2 linked regions of the Homo sapiens genome follow. The protein of the gene in region 1 binds, or shares a complex with, the protein of each later gene. Each region holds a gene or a part of one and is shown on either strand. Other genes may lie near its edges. The genes, in order: VAMP7 and BNIP1.

What was found.
Region 2: VAMP7 (region 1) and BNIP1 share a complex: the UniProt entries of both Homo sapiens proteins name them as parts of the SNARE complex.

Annotation. Positions count from the first base shown.
Region 1 is NC_000023.11:155,936,520-155,940,344, forward strand, and holds part of VAMP7 (vesicle-associated membrane protein 7), read left to right. Parts: intron 1-3,181; coding exon 3,182-3,274; intron 3,275-3,825. UniProt on the Homo sapiens protein: Involved in the targeting and/or fusion of transport vesicles to their target membrane during transport of proteins from the early endosome to the lysosome. Required for heterotypic fusion of late endosomes with lysosomes and homotypic lysosomal fusion.
Region 2 is NC_000005.10:173,151,031-173,154,855, forward strand, and holds part of BNIP1 (vesicle transport protein SEC20), read left to right. Parts: intron 1-535; coding exon of another isoform or gene 536-664; intron 665-3,291; coding exon 3,292-3,383; intron 3,384-3,825. UniProt on the Homo sapiens protein: As part of a SNARE complex may be involved in endoplasmic reticulum membranes fusion and be required for the maintenance of endoplasmic reticulum organization. Also plays a role in apoptosis.

The sequences.
Region 1 (3,825 bases):
GGTGTGCTGTTTGCTAAGACCGTTGGAAAAGCGCAGTATTAGGGTGGGAGTGATCCGATTTTCCAGGTGCCATCTGTCACAGCTTCCCTTGGCTAGGAAAGGGAATTCCCTGACCCCTTGTGCTTCCCGGGTGAGGCGATGTCTCGCCCTGCTTCGGCTCACGCTCGGTGGGCTGCACCCACTGTCCAACAAGCCCCAGTGAGATGAAGCCGGTATCTCAGTTGGAAATGCAGAAATCATCCGTCTTGTGCGTTGCTCACGCTGGGGGCTGTAGACTGGAGCTGTTCCTATTTGGCCATCTTGGAACAGGAATCAAAGGAAATTTTTTAAAAATCCCATTTATGATAGCATCAAAAAGAGTACAATAGTTAGGAATAAATTTAACCAAGGATGTAATAATGTGCACACTGAAAATTATAAAACATTGATGAAAGAAATTCAAGAAGACACAAATCAATGGAAAGATACCTTATGTTTATGGATTGGAAGAATCAATATTATTAAAATGTTCATACTGCCTGAAGCAATACACAGATTCAACACAATCCCTATTGAAATTCCAATGGCATTTTTCACAGAATAGAAAAAAAAATTCTAAAATGTGGATGAAACTAGAAGACATTATATTAAGTGAAATATACTAGACACAGATAGATAAATACTGTATGATTTCACTTATATATGGAATCTAAAAAAAATGTTCAGTTCATAAAAGCAGAGAGTAAAACAGTGGTTGACAGTGGGTGGGAGACCTGGAGAGATGTTGGTCAAAGTGTATGAACTTACAGTTGTAAGATGAATAAGTTCTGGATACCGGACATACAGCATGGCAACTATAGTTAATAATAATGTATTGAATATTTGAAATATGCTATAAGAATAGATCTTAAGCATTCTCACCACATACCCAAAAAAGTAACTATGTGAGGTGATGGATATTTTACTTAGCTTGATTGTGGTAATAATTTCACAATGTGTACATTTATCAGAATATCACATTGTATACCTTGAATATATACCATTTTTATTTGCCAATTATACTTCAAGGCAGAAAAAAATAAAATTAGAGTAGAAACAAAAGCTTGGAGGTCTGAAATGTTACTAAAAGTGTAACATTTTCCTTTTTTCAATATTCTTGCCACATGGTGGGTAGGTCCTTTTAGTCTGAAGATTCAAGTCTGTCTTATTTGGGGGATATTTTCTTCAATTAGTCCCTTGATTATTGATCCTTCTCTTTTGGCTGTATTCTCTCCTGTGACTGCTAATAGGTGTGTAAATCAGTACCAGGCACATAATAAGCACATGTTAAATATCTGTTGATCGTATAAATTGATCCTGGATTTGCTTGATCAGTTTTCCGTGTATCTTACATCTTCTTTCATGATTTACAACCTAGACATTTTGCTGTTTTCAGAACAAATTTTTTGAATTGTTACTGCAGAAGCTGCTTTTGCTCATTTATGTTCTGCTTTTAAAAAATTATGCCATTTTATTAAAATATAGTTTTTGGAATGTTGTCATGTTATCTAATTTTTTATGTCCTCTGATGACTTTGTTTAAAATTAGTTCAATTATGTCTTGTATCTGAGGATACTTATTAGAAATTTTTTTATTACTGTTATTCTATCTTGTTTCCCATATTAACTTTGTTCCATTAAGGACTGTTTGTCCCCATTGCTTTTTTTGTCTCCTCACTTTAACTGCTGTTTCTTCTCAAAAGTTCTAGTCAATGCATATATTCTATTCAACATATATATTTAGCTCTAGATGTAATCAGTTTTGGTATGTGCCTCCAGGTGGCATCCTGTGCAGTCTTCATGAAGTGAAACCCAAAGACTGGTGCCCCTGTCAGTTGTTCTACTGCAGAGACTTTGTGGAGTATGTGGTTGGAGATGAATCTATGGTTAAGGGAGTGGATTTTTTAAAACCAATATGTGAAGTATAATATACATAAAGTGCATCAACTGTAAGCATACAACTTGTTGTGTTTTCACAAAGTAAACATACCATGTAGAACCAACACCCAGATTAAGAACTAGAGCACGAACAGTACCCCAGAAGCTCCCTTCTCCCTTCTTTTAGTCACTACTCTTCTCCAAAGGTGGCCACTGTCCTGATTTCTCCACATAGATTAATAAAACATAGCAGGGGCCGAGAGTGGTGGCACACACCTATAGTCCCAGCTACTCAGGAGGCTGAGGTGGGAGGATCGTTTGAGCCCAGGAGGTCAAAGCTGCAGTGAGTCGTAATTGTGCCACTGCACTCCAGCTTGGGCGACAGAGCAAGACCCTGTCTCAAGATAAATAATAAAATATAGCAGGTATTCTGTTTATGTCAAGTTTCTATTGCTCAAAATGATGTTTGTGAGATTCATCTGTGGTAAATTGTATAAATGTAGTAGTAGATTGTGAATTGTCATTACTGTATTGTATTCCATGTTATGACTCTCCTGTAATTTATGCATTGCACAGTTGATGGGCATTTGGGTGGTTTCCAGTTTAAGGTATGAAAAGTAGTGCTGTCCAAAACATTTTTTTATATGTCTTTTGGTGAATTTGCATACATCTGTGGGACCATACCAGAGTGGATTGCTGGATTATTAGGGAGTTTTGTTGGTTGGTTGTTTGCCATTTTGTTTTAAACTCCTTGTGTCCTGGTGGGAATTGTTCAGTAGATACTGAGAAATTGATGATGCAAAAGAAAATGGATAGCAGAAGGAATGAAGTTCTATGGGTTTTGGCCCTCACAAAAGTAAATACATATCTTCCTACAGAAATCAAACAGGTTTTTATGGCTCAAAGCCCCGGAATTATACGGGGCAGAATAGGCGAATGTGCTTGCAGTCAGCTGGCTTTAAAAGAGCCTTTCTTATTGGAAGTATAGAGAGGAAAATTCTTTTCCACTAGCGGGAAGAACCACTTCTGGTGCTCAACATCATGTGCATTGCTGCAGTGGAGAAGAAAAAAGAGGGAAGCGTTTTCATTGGGCTCATACTGCTTATGATAGGCCTGGCAGAGTCTTGCTTTTGGCAACTATTGAGTATGAATGGCCAGTCTCTACTTGTAAAGAGAGGTCATTGGACTTAAATGGAATTAATGGAAGTAAAATGTTCTCAGGTTGTTACTGCAAATCATTCATGTAGTCAGTGCCAGGGGTTAAACAATTCTCGCCTCTTTTCTAGTCTGTCACCTTCAAAACTACCAGCAGAAATCTTGCTCGAGCCATGTGTATGAAGAACCTCAAGCTCACTATTATCATCATCATCGTATCAATTGTAAGTTTTTGTCCTTTTAGTGTATGGCTTTATTTTTCAATCTCTAAGAAATTAGGTACTAGAATTATTTCTCAATGATTAACACTCTGAAATGAGCTACATATGTCTTTTAATAGTGAAACACATGACCAGGCAGTGGCTTTCCTATGAAGTCACTATGAAATATCTCTACTTAAACCCCTCCTTCCTATTGAGAATTATTATATATTCTCAATAGGAAGAGATCTATAAAACTGACCTCACAGAAATGTAGTTATTTTAAATAAAGACATTTCTGGTTTATATGTAATGGGTTTATTGTTTTTATTTTTAAATTAATTATGTATTTTTAAAGTTTTAATTTCTAATATGGCAAATGCTGATAATTATAATCCCCCTTAAACAAGAACTCTTTGGAGTCCTCAGTAATTTTTGAGTGTGTAAAGAGGTCCTAAACCACAACTTTAAAAACTATTGCTAACAGGTGGGGGGTGCTTTACCCTGTTCATGGTCAGATAAAGTTGCCTTTCCTCCCCATCCTCCAGTCATGTCCAGAAGCCCAAAGTTACCTC
Region 2 (3,825 bases), on another chromosome or scaffold:
TTCACCGTGTTAGCCAGGCTGGTCTCGATCTCCTGACTTTGTGATCAGCCTGCCTCAGCCTCCCAAAGTGCTGGGATTACAGGCGTGAGCCACCGCGCCCGGTCAAAACTTATACTGTTAAGTATAATTTTATTATACGTATATTGGAAATTTTTCCATTTCAGTAATCAGAGACTGTCCTCATTTTTCTTTTTTTTTCTTTTTTTGAGACAGGGTCTTGGGCTGTCACCCAGGCCAGAGTGCAGTGGCACAATCTCAGCTCACCACAGCCTTGATTTCCCAGGCTCAAGCGATTTTCCTCCTGCCTCAGTCCCCCAAATAGTTGGGACTACAGGCGTGCGCCACCACACCCAGCAAATTTTTGTAGTTTTTATAGAGACAGGGTTTTGCCATGTTGCTCAGGCTGGACTTGAACTCCTGGACTCAAGTGATTGCCTGCCTCAGCCTTCCAAAGTGTTGGGATTACAGGCAGGAGCCACCACACCTGGTCTCTCATTCTTTTCTAAATAACTGTCATTTTTTTTTTTTTTTTTAGCCAGTTCTCTATCAAAGGGCATTTATTTGGACTGCTTCCACATTTTTTTTTAAGCTAACTTATTCCCTGACAGACTTTTCTTCAACTCAGCATGACTTCAACTCTCCAACTACACCTGTTACCTTCAGTGTGAGTATTTGTATGTTCTTTTTAAACATCTGGGTGCCCACCCAGTGTTTATTTCCTTCACTCATTAAAATGACCTCACCAATACGTGTACATTTACATATTTATTATGGCACCTAGGAAGGACCTAATAAGCACATGGCCAGTAAATGAATAACCCCATCCCAGTTTTAATCTGCGTTTCTTAAGTATTTACATACTCTTTTTGTATCTGGAAATAAATACAAGATTCCTGTTTGTTTGCCATTTTTAGCTTTTATTTGAATGTCTTTTTTGTGTATTTCCAACAAGATCATGTGATACTAGAGAACTGGCCTCATATCCTCAAAACTGGGTGTTCTGCACATGGTGAATCTTGGGCACTGACTGTGTATAAATATCTGTGTGTTTGTCTTTGTACATATAGCTCTCAAACTGGAATTTGAGGACTGCTCTCCCCCGCCATTCCTTTCTCCAGAACTATCACTGGTTCTCTTTGAAAGAACTTCCAGGCAATCTTTCATGAGTAAATTGTACATTTCTCCCCCTTTTTAATCCCTCCGCTTTTCCCATGCGTTCATTCTTCCATTCAGTGACTCAGTGCCCAGTATGTGCCAGGCACAAGGAATATATGTAGTGAATAATGTGAGATACAGCTCTGCTTATTCATAGAATTTACATTCTTTTTTTTTTTTTTGAGACGGAGTCTCACTCTGTTGCCCAGGCTGGAGTGCAGTGGCACGATCTCGGCTCACTGCAATCTCCACTTCCCGGGTTCACGCCATTCTCCTGCCTCAGCCTCCCGAGTACCTGGGATTACAGGCGCCCGCCACCACGCCTGGCTAATTTTTTGTATTTTTAGTGGAGACGGGGTTTCACCGTGTTAGCCAGGATGGTCTTGATCTCCTGACCTCGTAATCTGCCTGCCCTGGCCTCCCAAGGTGCTGGAATTATAGGCGTGAACCACCAGGCCCAGCCCATAGAATTTACATTCTAATAGGGAATACAGATTTTAAACAAATAATTATGAAAATAATTGATGACATTTGCAAAACTTTTCTAATTCACAGTTGATTATTTCTTTTATTCTCTACCTCAGCAATATTTGGAGGCATAAATTGAAAGTCATCTCTGTGCTATTGAAATGGTGGATACACAAACTTGTTCCAAACCAGTATGTGCAAATTGATACGTAAATCAGTAAATTAGTATATAAATGAGCAAATACATTGATGTTTCAGATCAATAGCGTGATTGAAGCTAGAACCTGTTTTAATTTGTAAACCAAAAAATGTGATTGGTATAATGCTATCTTTAATTATAGTCCCTCTTGATGGTTCTTTTATCTGAAGTTCTTGGGGTTTAATACTTCTGGGTATGTCTGCTGACCCTAACTTATAGTGGGTTATTTCCTTGGTGTTAGGTTATTTTGGACTGTGAGCGCTCATCTTAGCAGACCTTATCTGAGGGACTTTGTGCAGCTGGGTCGAGGCCAAGTCTCTACAGAGGTTTTTGCATTAGCTTCCCGCCAGGTCTCCTGAGATGATCACAAGTCTGACAACATTTTTTTTTTTTTTGAGACAGTCTCTCTCTGTCGCCCAGGCTGGAGTGCAGTGGCGCAGTCTTGGCTTGCTGCAAGCTCTGCCTCCCGGGTTCACGCCATTCTCCTGCCTCAGCCTCCTGAGTAGCTGGGACTACAGGTGCCCGCCACCACGCCCGGCTAATTTTTTGTATTTTCAGTTGAGATGGGGTTTCACCATGTTAGCCAGGATGGTCTCGATCTCCTGACCTCGTGATCTCCCCGCCTCGGCCTCCCAAAGTGCTGGGATTACAGGCGTGAGCCACTGCGCCCGGCCGAGAACACTGTTTATGTTCATTTCTCTTCATGGAGTTTCACGAACCACTCAGGGAAGATAAATTGAACCCTAGATCAGTGGAAGGAGCAGCTCCCTGGTTGGTTATAAATTCTCAGGGGAGTTTTTTTTTAACCCCTCTATTTGGAACTCATAGCAAAAAAAGGCAAGCATCTATGTTTTCCCTCTGTGCTGGTAGATGGACATTTTTTTATACCATTTTCCTGTGTCTGTAACCTTTCGTGGGTTTTAGATTTGTGGTGATCTCAGTTCAGCTTCTCAACCTCAGCCTCAGATGGCTCAGGGCTTCATTTTTCTGTCCCTGCACGAGCTCTCAAACCTTCAAGCGCTCAAACTGCCTATTACTCGTCTTTAATTAAATAGGCACAGAAATTGTGAGTATCTGGAAATGAACAGCAGTTTGATATTTTAATGATATCTAAGTGGGGGATCAGTGTGCTTGTATTTCGTCATTGTTTTTCTTTTCCTTTCGGGCCTGCCCTAGGTGACAGGAGCAGCAGCTCTGACGCCAGGACAGCCGTGCATCACTCCCAGGCTGACTATTCCAGCTCTTGTTCCCTTCCCACTTTTGGGCCATAGGGGTTTTCCTTACTTCCTTGTGGACTTAGCTATAGATTTAAAAGGATGTGTGTTATATGTTACCTAGCATTCCTAGGTGTTCTGTTTTAAAAGGGTGCTTCAAGTGCTATTGTATGCCCTTGGCAGAAATAGAAATGCTCTTCTGCTTTCATGTTGACTTTTGAAATCATTTTAACATGGAATTATTTTTCCTCAAAGGACCTGGAGCAGTTGGCTAAAGAGCAAGACAAAGAATCAGAGAAACAACTTCTACTCCAGGAAGTGGAGAATCACAAAAAGCAGATGCTCAGGTAGGCAGGGCCTGCCCCCGCCAGCGGCTTCTGCTGGCTCTTCTTGTTGCCTGTGAGCCTTGCACGTGTGTTTGCCTGATGGATCTGCTTTAATGCTGACTTAATGGTGTCTTTTTTTTTTTTTTGAGAGACGGTGTCTCGCTCTATTGCCCAGGCTGGAGTGCAGTGGCCTGATCTTGGCTCACTGTGACCTCTGCCTCCCGAGTTCAAGCAATTCTTCTGCCTCAGCCTCCTGAGTAGCTGGGATTACAGGCGCCCACCATCACGCCTGGCTAATTTTTGTATTTTTACTAGAGACAGAGTTTCGCTGTGTTGGCCAGGCTGGTCTCTAACACTGGCCTCATGTGATTCACCCACCTTGGCTTCCCAAAGTGCTGGGATTACAGGTGTGAGCAACCACGCCCAGCCAATTGCATCAGTTACACACTGGTGGAATGTTCTC